Homo sapiens: one gene and its partners. The protein of the gene in region 1 purifies or fractionates together with the protein of each later gene. This does not show direct contact. Each region holds a gene or a part of one and is shown in the gene's direction. Other genes may lie near its edges. The genes, in order: MAK16, ZCRB1 and RPF2.

Region 1 (3,828 bases):
GTGCCCCTACACAGTTTTACGTAATCATTCTAACATAACTTACAGATATAACACTTTAAAACCCTCTATGACTTTCACTATCAAATTAATGCACCATCCTGGGCTATTGTGTGGTAGTACAGGTTGATGTCATGTGTCATCTCCAATGAGAGATCACTGGAGGAAGAGATTTTTACCTATTCTGTCACATGGAATCTAGCATGATTTTAGAAAATGTAAACGAATGAAGATTTCTGTTCTCTTTTCTCAGCTTTTACAAAGTCTGGCTCCAGAGTTGCTAGATTATTTCTGAGACACTTAAATGTATATAGACTTACATGCTTTGTATCTATCAAAGCCTGTGTTAGAATTTAATTTAGAATGTTGTTTACAAAACCATAGGAATTTCAAAATGGAAATGTTCCCAAGGAAGTTTACAAGAGAAAGAAGAAGAAATCTATCTCGTTGGAAAGGCAAAAGCCAGTATTAGCAAGGAGGGGAAATAATTACATTGTCTTTCTTATAAACAACTTGGTAGTTTCTTCCATTTTTATAAGATGAGTAATGAGCACTGATGAATTAAACAGATTTGCTCTTTCCCCCTTATAGGAAAAGGCATTAATAGCTGCTCAGCTGGACAATGCCATTGAGAAGGAATTACTGGAGAGACTGAAACAAGATACGGTGAGAAAGCCATTAGCTTTGGGGTACTGAAATTTTAAGTGGTAGTATGTTGCTAAGACATATTGGGAATTTTTTTTTTTTTTTTTTTTTTTTTTTTTTTTTTTTTTTTTTTTTTTTTGAGATGGAGTCTTGCTTTGTTGCCCAGGTTAGAGTGCAGTGGTGCAATCTCGGCTCACTGCAACCTCTGCCTCCCAAGTTCAAGCAATTCTCCTGCCTCAGCCTCCTGAGTAGTTGGGATTACAGGCACCACCACTGCACCCAGCTAATTTTTGTATTTTTAGTAGAGACAGGGTTTCACCATCTTGGCCAGGCTGGTCTTGAACTCCTGACCTCGTGAGCCACTGTGCCTGGCTGGGAAATGTTTTTTAACATGATATGAAGATCTCCACTCGAATTTTATCCCTGGAATAAAATAAATCCATATCGGCCTGGCTTCCTTGCTTTAATTAATGCAAGCACATAAAATGCTTTGGTTACCCTTGATACTCCATTCACTATAAGAGACCTTTCCCTTTTTGCCATTATTCTCAGCTCCATTCCCCAAGACAACAATTCCAGATTTCTGTATAAAAGCCATGGGGTTTTGCTTCTCCTGCATATTACCCTAGTCTTTTAAGGCTCTTTGAAATAAGTTTTTATTCTCTTTTTAAAAATTAGTGTTGTTTATACAGACAACATGACTAAAGTATGCTTTTTCCTTATTATTTCCCCTTGTCAGCAAAATGACATTTGTCCCAATGCATGGGTTTTGTAGACTATTACATTTTAAATTATTTTAAAATGTAACTCCATAGAAGTTACCTATTTGATACTAACTGCAGATGATTTAAATGTTCAAAAGAACATGCTTTTTTAAGACACTGCTGGCTCTACACTTAAAAATATTACTCATCAAATTAAGTATTCTGATTTAATCACTGAGGAAAAAGTAATATTCTCCACAGAAAGTGGAACTTCAAGTGTAATATCCAAATGTAGTTAAAGCCAATCTGTGTTTATGTTCTTCAGTATGGCGACATCTACAACTTCCCCATTCATGCCTTCGACAAAGCCCTGGAACAACAGGAGGCAGAGAGTGACTCTTCAGATACTGAGGAAAAAGATGATGATGATGATGATGAGGAAGTAAGTCTTGTTTTTGTTTTGCCAAACCTACTAGATACCATTTGTATAAAACTGAGAAACAGAATATCATCTTCAGTCCGCTAACCAAAAATGATATGTCTTCTTTTTTCTTTCATGTGATTAATTTTGGTTTAGCACTGGTTGCTCTGTTCTTCAGGCTAACCAACAAACCATTAACAATTTTAGTCTTAATTTATTGGTCTTCTAAAATTGTTCCTGCAAGGTGACAAATTATAAAGCCTTTCCTGTCTATATGTAGTTTTTAACCATAATGAGGATGTTTTATTGCTAATAATTTAAATCAAGAATAAGAATGATCTGGTAGCCCTAAAATTTTTAAAATTCAGAAGCATTAAATTTAGAAAGAACTAAATTTTCATTGCCTAGTGAAAAGACTGTGGTTCTCATTATGTTATTTTGTACTTACTTAGATGTCTAATCTGAATCTTCATTATGTATTCTGAACCTAACAGTTATGTTTTATTTATAGGATGTGGGGAAAAGAGAATTTGTCGAAGATGGTGAGGTAGATGAGAGTGACATAAGTGATTTTGAGGTGAGCTTTATGGGTAAAAAGATTGTCCTTTGGCCTGCAGCAAAAAAAAAAAAAAAACAAAAACAGGGAGGTGGCCAGGCACCGTGGTTCACTCCTATAATTGCAGCACTTTGGGAGGCCAAAATGGGAGGATTGTTTGAGCTCAGGAGTTCGAGACCAGCCTGAAGAACATAGTGAGACCTCATCTCTAATAAAAAAAAAAATTTTTTTTTTTAGATGAAGTTTCGCTCTGTAGCTCAGGCTAGAGTGCCATAGTGCAATCTGGGCTCATCGCAGCCTCAGCCTCCCGGGTTCAAGCGATTCTCCTCCTTCAGCCTCCCAAGTAGCTGGAATTACAGGCATGTGCCACTCCACCCGGCTAATTTTTTGTATTTTTAGTAGACACGGGGTTTCACCATGTTGGCCAGGCTGGTCTAGAACTCCAGACCTCTGGTAATCCGCCTGCCTCAGTCTCCCAAAGTGCTAAGATTAGAGGCATGAGTCACAGGGCCTGGCCTAAAATTTTTTAAAAATCATGACCAGGCGTGGTGGCTCACGCCTATAATCCTAGCACTTTGGGAGGCCGAGGTGGGCGGATCACATGAGGTCAGGAGTTCGAGACCAGCCTGGCCAACATAGCAAAACCCCGTGTCTACTAAAAATACAAAAATTAGCTAGGTATGGTGGTGCATGCCTGTAATCCCTGCTACTTGGGAGGCTGAGGCAGAAGAATCGCTTGAACCTAGGAGATGGAGGTTGCAGTGAGCTGAGAGCGCACCACTACACTCCAGCCTGGGCAACAGAGCGAGACTCCGTCTCCAAAAAAAAAAAAAAAAAAAATTAAAATTCAGCTGGATGTGGTGGCGGTTGCCTGTAGTCCCAGCTACTCAGGAAGCTGAGGTGGGAGGATTGTTGACTACAGCAGTTTGAGGCTGCAGTGAGCCATGACTATGCCACTGCACTCCTGCTTGGGCAACAGAGCAAGACCCCGTCTCAAAAAAAAAAAAAAAAAAAAATTAAAGAAAGGGACAATTTCTGAACACAGACATAGACAAATCAATGCCCTAGTCTGTTCTAGATTGAGGGGACAAGGAAGGGAGTTTGGAGAAATCTAGTGTTTTCCCTCTTCCTTTATCTTTTCTCTCCCCGTAATAGGATATGGATAAACTGGATGCCAGCAGTGATGAAGATCAGGATGGTAAATCCTCCAGTGAGGAGGAGGAAGAAAAGGCCCTTAGTGCGAAACACAAAGGCAAAATGCCCTTGAGAGGACCACTGCAGAGAAAACGAGCCTATGTGGAAATAGAATACGAGCAGGAGACAGAGCCCGTGGCCAAAGCCAAAACCACGTGATTTCCCTTTCAGCATTTATACCCAGGACTGAACATGCAGAACTGTTTTTTTTTTTTTTTTATCTTAAACACATACACACCTCCAGTTTTTGCTCTTTTGTGTTGTACTGAACACAATATTTGTGTTTTTATTATTTATGCCACGTCAGTGGG
Region 2 (3,600 bases), on another chromosome or scaffold:
GAGACTTGTGTTTGACCCACTTTTTTTTTTTTAATAAAATTCTATTCCACTGACAACATTTAAAAACTGGGAGAGGATGCTTTTTAAAAAATGGTATTTCCAACTTTTTTTGAAAAAATTAGATGTTCTGGCAAAACTGGGATCATATTCTCACATAGCCACAATCAGCTGTAGCTGAGTGGCAGGTGACCCCTTCTAAGGGTGAAGTATTCATTAACGTTAACTGCCTGATCTCTGCAGCATACCTTCAGCACCTGCAATCATTCAAGAAATAACTGACTGTCTTATGTGCCAAGAACTGTATTAGCTACTGGAGTTACAAAGATAAACGAGACAAACACAGTCCCTCACCGACAGTCTCGCTTAGTAGGGATGGCAAAGAAGCAATTAAGATACATGTGATAAATGCCGTGAGGGAAGTGCAGGACAGCTAAGAGTACATAGCAAAAATACCTAACTCTATGGAAGTTAGGGTATACCCCTCAAGTAAAGTGACAGCTAAACTCAGATCTTTAATAGAAGTTATCCAGAAAAAGATAGGAGGAAACAGGGAGCTCAAATGTCCCAGAGAGAGAAAAGAGCCTTTGTGAAGATACTGAGGGAAGAAAGTATTCTGAGGAATTGAAATCCGTTCAACATGGCTACAGCCATGCCCAACCTTTAAATGCAGGGTCAGAGAAAGGGCTCAACTGAAATGGCTGGCAGGAAAATCTACGTGTTATCAATAGTTAAGGTTAGGAGATGAAGGAGAATTTCACTAAAGAAGTTGAATATGTAAAATAGTTTAAGCAGGAAATAGAGGTTTCAGAAAGCACAGATGGGGTGTTGAGGGGTTAAATGGGGAAGAAACGAAGAAGCAGTGATAGCCTAAGTCGAAAGAAAGCACAAAGCAGCATGGAAATGAGACTATAGCACAGAAGACCACAGAAGCTTACATCTTGGGCGGTAACCAAGGATAACAGAGATGTAAAGCATGGTAAGTTTGGCTGGCCACAAGTATGCCTAGAGAATTAGTGCCAGCGGTCTCCTGTCGGCCACGGAGGCATTCAGGCCTCTCAAAATTCAGCTGCGCCCTGGATGGATTGTACTTCCGTCTCTATAGAAGACATCGGCTTCACTCTGGATTGATTGTGCAGGCTCCAGGAGAGGCTGTGGGTTCCAGGCTGCTGGAACGCAGGCTCCCAGGGAGTGGTTAGAGGCCTGGTCTGTATGTGCTGGTAGGCAGAAGTATAAATTACCTTGCATTACGTTCTGATTTTTCTGTAGGAATGGTGGGCATGTTATGGCCTCTTAGAGAAAAAGCAGTGCGTAGCCATTATAGATTTACAGGAAGAGAAAAGGTGCCAAGAAGATCAACACTTGTCCATACCCATACTAAAGATGAGTCATTCTGTGAATCCAACTCTCCCCAAGTTGACCTCGTCTCCCCAACTAGACTGAGATCTTCACCAGAAAACAAAACAAAACAAAACATAAAAGGTCTGTTTATTTTGTAGTTCCCAAAGTGCCTAATAGCTGGGTACCGTGAACACCTTCAGTAAAATTACCGACTTCCTGACTCCTCTCGGGTCACTGAAGTTACCTAGCTCAGTCGTCTTCTTGCATATTAAGGCGCTACAGAGAGGCGAACCCCTATCTTAGACTCAATACTTCCCTTTATTCCAAACTCCACTGCGTCTCTCCACCCTCAACCGCATGGGCAGAATTGTCACACAATTCAAAGGCAGGAGAATCCAGGACCCGACACAGAAAACTCCCGCCCACTCCCCCCCGTTTAGCAGCCCGCACACGCTCTGCATCCATCTCTGGGAAAGGTAAAAAGCGCTCACCGACTCTGGCCCTCCGGGAGACCCCGTAAATGCAGCCGTCCGCTCGCCGCCGTTATCCCAGGTAGGTACTTCCGGCGCGCGCAATGACGTTAGCGAAGCGCTCGCCTCTGGGCCCGCCTTCGGGGCCCGGATCTCAAACAGTCGGGAAGAAGCACCGTGGCTGCTATTATCTGCTCTCCGCGCCTGACCCCTCCCAGGACTCGTGATGCCAAGGCCGCTGCGAGCGGCTACGAAGAGTCGGGGTTGAGCCCCAGCTGAGCCGAGGGCTCGCACTCTTCTGGTCTCCCAGGCCCAACCCACCTGAAGGTAAACGCCTCCTCAGCTGCGGCCTTCTCTCCTGCGGGGCCCCCTCCCCAGACTCGGCTGCCAAAACGCTCTGCCCCTCTCTCCCGCCACCCTTTTTATTCCAGGACCTTAACCTCTGCCTGCCTTCGCGGCTCTCAGCAGAACGTGTAACGCATAGTTTCAAATGAGAAACTTAAAAAGCGACGTATCTATGTTGAGTTCCTGAAGTTTTCTAAATAATTCCCCCATAACACCAAACATGAGGCAGTTTTCTCATTCCTTCACGAATTGGCATGCCATAGAGTCAGTATTTTTCCATTTGTGATGGTTGATCTTCCCATCTCAAATACACACCGCACGCTCTTTTTAAATCAGAAATTTGAATTTGGTTGAGCCTGATATTTTCACGGTAATTTGCTGACTTTGTAAGATAAGATGTGAAAATTACTGATTACATTTGTAAACTTTATATACATATACACACATACCTACAGGTCTGTCTCTTCGAGGCACCAAGCCTATTTATATAATGTATCATTTCATAATTTGGCAATAAGCAAAATTAGCGTTTCGAAAGAAGTTTATATTGTCGATACATAAAGCTTAAATTTACTCCTTAACATCATACTAAAAGGGGAAAAGAAAATTTTCCTCTTAACACACCACTCCAGAGAAAAAAAATATTAAGACAAGCAAAAAAGGTACCCAGCCATAGTACAGGCATGCACAGCATAACAACTTTTTGATTAACAACAAACCACATATACCACAGTGGTCTCCTAAGAGTGTAATACATTGTACCATATTTTTAGTGTACGTTTTCTGTGTTTAGCTATGTAAATATTTACCATTGTGTTTCAACTGTCTACATTATTCACTACATTAACATGCTGTACAGGTTGTAGCCTAGGAGCAATAGGCTAGACCATCTAGGTTTGTCTCAGTACACCCTGTGATGTCTGCACTGTGAAATCACGTAACACTCAGAACATACCTCCTTCATTAAGCATAGCATGACTGTGTATTAGCAAAAATCAGTGGCTAAGGTTCTGTCTGAGTCCCCATGCTCTTTCTGACCTGGGTGAGCAAGGTGCAGGTAATGTACATATACAGTACATATTCAATAGAGCATTTTTTTTGCTCATGGTCTGAGTGGAAGTTAGGAGTAGCCTCAGGGTTTTTCCTTCATCTGTTCAAAACCCGTCTCCCTACCCATACAATCTGGCACTGAAAGTGTTGGTATAAAGAATACTTGAAAGAAGAAGAACCAAAAAAGAATTTTTTTTAAGTGGTGACTGGGAAAAAGGAATTCCTTAATTCAGCCTGCTGGAGTCATTGTTCCTAACTTCCTAAAATGTAAGGAAGGTGTACACATCTGGCATAATTAAATCGGTGATTGTTAATACTTTATTGGTTTTTGTTTTTTGTTTTTTTCCAAATAATACCCAGACTGGTCTGATGTATTGGTTTTATTTGGAATTAATAA
Region 3 (3,828 bases), on another chromosome or scaffold:
CTACTCGAGAGGCTGAAGCACTAGAATCACTTGAACCCAGGAGATGGAGGTTGCAGTAACCTGAGATTGCATCACTGCACTCCAGCCTGTGTGACAGAGTGAGACTCTGTCTCAGAAACAAAACAAAGCAAAGCAAAACAAAACAAAAAAACACAAAGCAGCATAATCCATAATAGCCAAAAAATAGGAACCATTCAAATGTACATAAGCTGCCGGGTACAGTAGCTCACGCCTGTATTCCTAGCACTTTGAGAGGCCAAGGCGGGTGGATTACCTGAGCTCAGAAGTTCAAGACCAGCCTGGCCAACATGGTGAAACCCTGTCTCTACTAAAAAATACAAAAGTTAGCAAGGTGTGGTGGTGCGTGCATGTAATCCCAGCTACTTGGGAGGCTGAGGCAGAACTGCTTGAACCCGGGAGGTGGACGGCGCAGTAAGCCAAGATCGCACCACTGCACTTCAGCCCTGGCGACAGAGCAAGACTATGTCTAAAATAAAAAAAGTACCTAGGTTGATAAATGGATAAACAAAATGTGGTATATCCATACAAAGGAATATTATTCAGTCCTAACAAAATGGAAGTACTGATCCACGCTACATGTATGAACCTCAAAAAGATAGTGAAAGAAGTCAAACACAAAAGGCCATACGTTGCACGAAACCATTTATATATGTTCAGAATAGGCAAATCCATTGAACATAAAGTAGATTATTGGTTGCCAAGGGCTGGCAGGAGGGGGAAGTGGGGCATGGACTGCTACTGGGTGTGTGTGTCAGGGGGGTTCTTTTTGAGGTGATTAAATATTCTGGAATTAGTGGTGATATTTGCACATCTTTGTGAATACACCAAAAATCACTGAATTGTACACTGTAAAGGGGTACATTTTATGGTATGTGAAGTATATGGTAACTTAAAAACTGGGGAAAAATCACGAACAGCAGTACATTTTCTGCGCATCTTTTATGTACTAGGCAACTGTGGTAGTCATAAATTCTGTCACACAGATCGCATAGTTGTCAATAGTGCCCCTTTCACATCAATGTTTTTAGTGCTTATGTGAGTACCTACCGTGCAATCAATCAACCTTTCTAGCATCCTGGGATTCCTTGAAGAATAAAATCTGGTTTCTGAATACCTGACTCCAGGTATGCACACTAGCGCGTACATCAAACTGCGAGGGTCTATGTTATTTTATTTTATTTTTATTTTATTTTTGAGACGAAGTCTCGCTCTGTCACCCAGGCTGGAGTGCAGTGGCGCGATCTCCGCTCACTGCAACCTCCGCCTCCCGGGTTCAAGCAGTTCTCCCTGCCTCAGCCTCCCGAGTAGCTGGGGTTAGAGGCGCCCGCCACCACGCCCGGCTAATTTTTGTATTTTTAGTAGAGACGGGGTTTCGCCATGTTGGCCAGGCTGGTCTCGAACTCCTGTTATCAGGTAATCCGCCCGCCTGGGCCTCCCAAAATCCTGGGATTACAGGCGTGAGCCACCACGCCCGGCCAGTGTTACTTAAAAGTATTACCTCGCACCTGTAACTCCAGGAAAGAGCCGGGGCAAAAATCCGTAACCAAGACAACAGGGCGCGATTCCAATCAAGATGGCCGCCAGCGCCTCTAGACGCCCTCTACGAGGCCGTCCCCGGAAGTGGCGTTACGCGCAGCTTCCGGTTCCGCCTGTTCCGGCGCACGTAATCGCCGAGGGCACGTGCATGCCCCCTGGTTAAGAGTTGCAGGTAGCGGTAGCGATGGACACTCTGGATCGAGTAGTGTAAGTGCGCTGGGTCTCAGCCCCGGGGAGCGTTGGGGTGAAAGGGTCCCGTGATGAGGGTGGTACTGTCTCGGCCTCTCACTCTTCCTGGTTACCCCTCTAATTACCTGGGTGGGGGCCGATCGATCACCAGCCCGGGTCCTCCTCAGCGCGAGCTGCTTGCCAGGAGACAGTGGGGAAGCTCTCAAGTGGGAGCCGTGGGATGGGAGGGATGTGGGATTGAAGCGTTGGCCGCTTTTATCCTAGCCAGTTGAAAAACGTCTGACTTCCGAAGTATGAGACAGATGGTATAGTGGGGTTAGGAGCACAGCCCTCGGAATCCGACAGATCTGAGTGACAGTCTGGCGCGTCCACTTAAAGCTTTGTGACTTTGGGTCATTAAATATCTCTAAATCTTAGCTTATTCTGTAAAATAGCGCTCACCATAGTCATACTTCATAGAGCTGTGAGGGTTAGTTTCGAGAATGTATGTAGAGCCTTTGCTGCAGCACGTAGAAATGTTCATTAGTTTTTTCTTTTCCTTCCAACTTTGTACACTCCTCTGAGTTATCCTTGAATGATACCTGTTTTAAATTTGTTCAAGAATATTTGGGCTAAACAGCCCTGCTGTTACTTGCTGTGATTTTCTTGCTATTTACCTAAGTTAACATGTATCCAAAACGACAGTTTTAGTCATTCAGAGATTTTGCACACCTGCTATGCCTCTAGCTGTTTGGACTACAAAGAGTAGTTTACTAGGTATTGGGACTAGTTCACACGTTAATTGGGAGCAGGCAGCTAATAAAACATGTTAATTGCTATTTGCATTTGTTGCTGTTTAATGAGATACAAAAGATAGAATAATTTGTATCTTTATCAACCAGTAAATGATCAGAAGCTTTATATGTGACATTATATCTGGAGGAGTATTTTAAAAATCTACATGGGAAACTTAAGTGTATGTATGGTCTCTTTTTCTTCCCAAAGTGTCCATGGGACTGGACGAGGGAGGGTCATAATTATTTGGGAGGAAGAATTCTTTCAGTAGATGGCAGAGAACTGTCTGAAAAGCAAGGTGCTCATTGTAGAGGAAGCAGAGGTGAAGCCCCTCTTTTGAACAGAAGTGTGTAAAAACATGCCACTCCTACTGTCACATCATAAAGTCAGAATAATGAATTTATTTTCCCTTCATATTTTACAGGGTAATTGGTCTAGACGAATTTTTAAATCTAGCTTTAAAAAATTTGTTTTTTTTTGAGACAGGGTATCACTCTGTCACCCAGGCTGGAGTGCAGTAGCCCCATCACAGCTCACTGCAGCCTCGACCTCCCTGGGATCAAGCAGTCCTCCTACCTCAGCCTGCTGAGTAGCTGGGACTATAGGCGCACACCACCACAGCTAATTTTTGTATTTTTTGTAGAGACAGGGTTTTGCATTGTTGCCCAGGCTGGTCTCGAACTTCTGGGCTCAGTGATCCATCCACCTTGGCCTCCTAGAGTGTTTTTATTACAGGCTGTGGGCCACCTCCCAGCCCTAGCTCATTTTAAAAATTGGCCTGTTTACTTGCTGTGTGATCTTGGGCACATTACCTGTCTGTTCAATTGCCTCATCTGTAAAGTGAAGATAAGAATTGTAACTCGCGCGTGGAGGCTCACGCCTGTAATCCCAGCACTTTGGGAGGCTGAGGCGGGGGGGTGGGTCACGAGGTCAGGAGATCGAGACCATCCTGGCTAACACGGTGAAACCTCGTCTGTACTAAAAATACAAAAAATTAGCCGGGCGTCGTGGCGGGCGCCTGTAGTCCCAGCTACTCGGGAGGCTGAGGCAGGAGAATGGCGTGAACCTGGGAGACGGAGCTTGCAGTGAGCCGAGATCGCACCACTGCACTCCAGCCTGGGCGACAGAGCGAGACTCTGTCTCAAAAAAATAAATAAATAAATAAATAAGAATTGTAACTCTCAGGATTGTGGTGAAGATTAAGCCTTAATAGAGTGACTCCATGTAAACATCAGCCTTATTATTCCCCATTGTTGGCAATAATACTGGCATTCTCAGCAATGATGTTGGAGTGCAACAGTGTATACT

The links.
Region 2: the proteins of MAK16 (region 1) and ZCRB1 purify together in Homo sapiens (affinity purification with mass spectrometry; 2 studies listed by BioGRID and IntAct, with this or other methods). This does not show direct contact.
Region 3: the proteins of MAK16 (region 1) and RPF2 purify together in Homo sapiens (affinity purification with mass spectrometry; 2 studies listed by BioGRID and IntAct, with this or other methods). This does not show direct contact.

What each region holds. Positions count from the first base shown.
Region 1 is NC_000008.11:33,494,954-33,498,781, forward strand, and holds part of MAK16 (protein MAK16 homolog), read left to right. Parts: intron 1-588; coding exon 589-663; intron 664-1,671; coding exon 1,672-1,788; intron 1,789-2,278; coding exon 2,279-2,344; intron 2,345-3,478; coding exon 3,479-3,676; 3' UTR 3,677-3,828.
Region 2 is NC_000012.12:42,324,459-42,328,058, reverse strand, and holds the start of ZCRB1 (zinc finger CCHC-type and RNA-binding motif-containing protein 1), read left to right. Parts: upstream 1-1,964; 5' UTR 1,965-2,135; intron 2,136-3,600.
Region 3 is NC_000006.12:110,980,366-110,984,193, forward strand, and holds the start of RPF2 (ribosome production factor 2 homolog), read left to right. Parts: upstream 1-1,672; 5' UTR 1,673-1,741; coding exon 1,742-1,764; intron 1,765-3,828. UniProt on the Homo sapiens protein: Involved in ribosomal large subunit assembly. May regulate the localization of the 5S RNP/5S ribonucleoprotein particle to the nucleolus.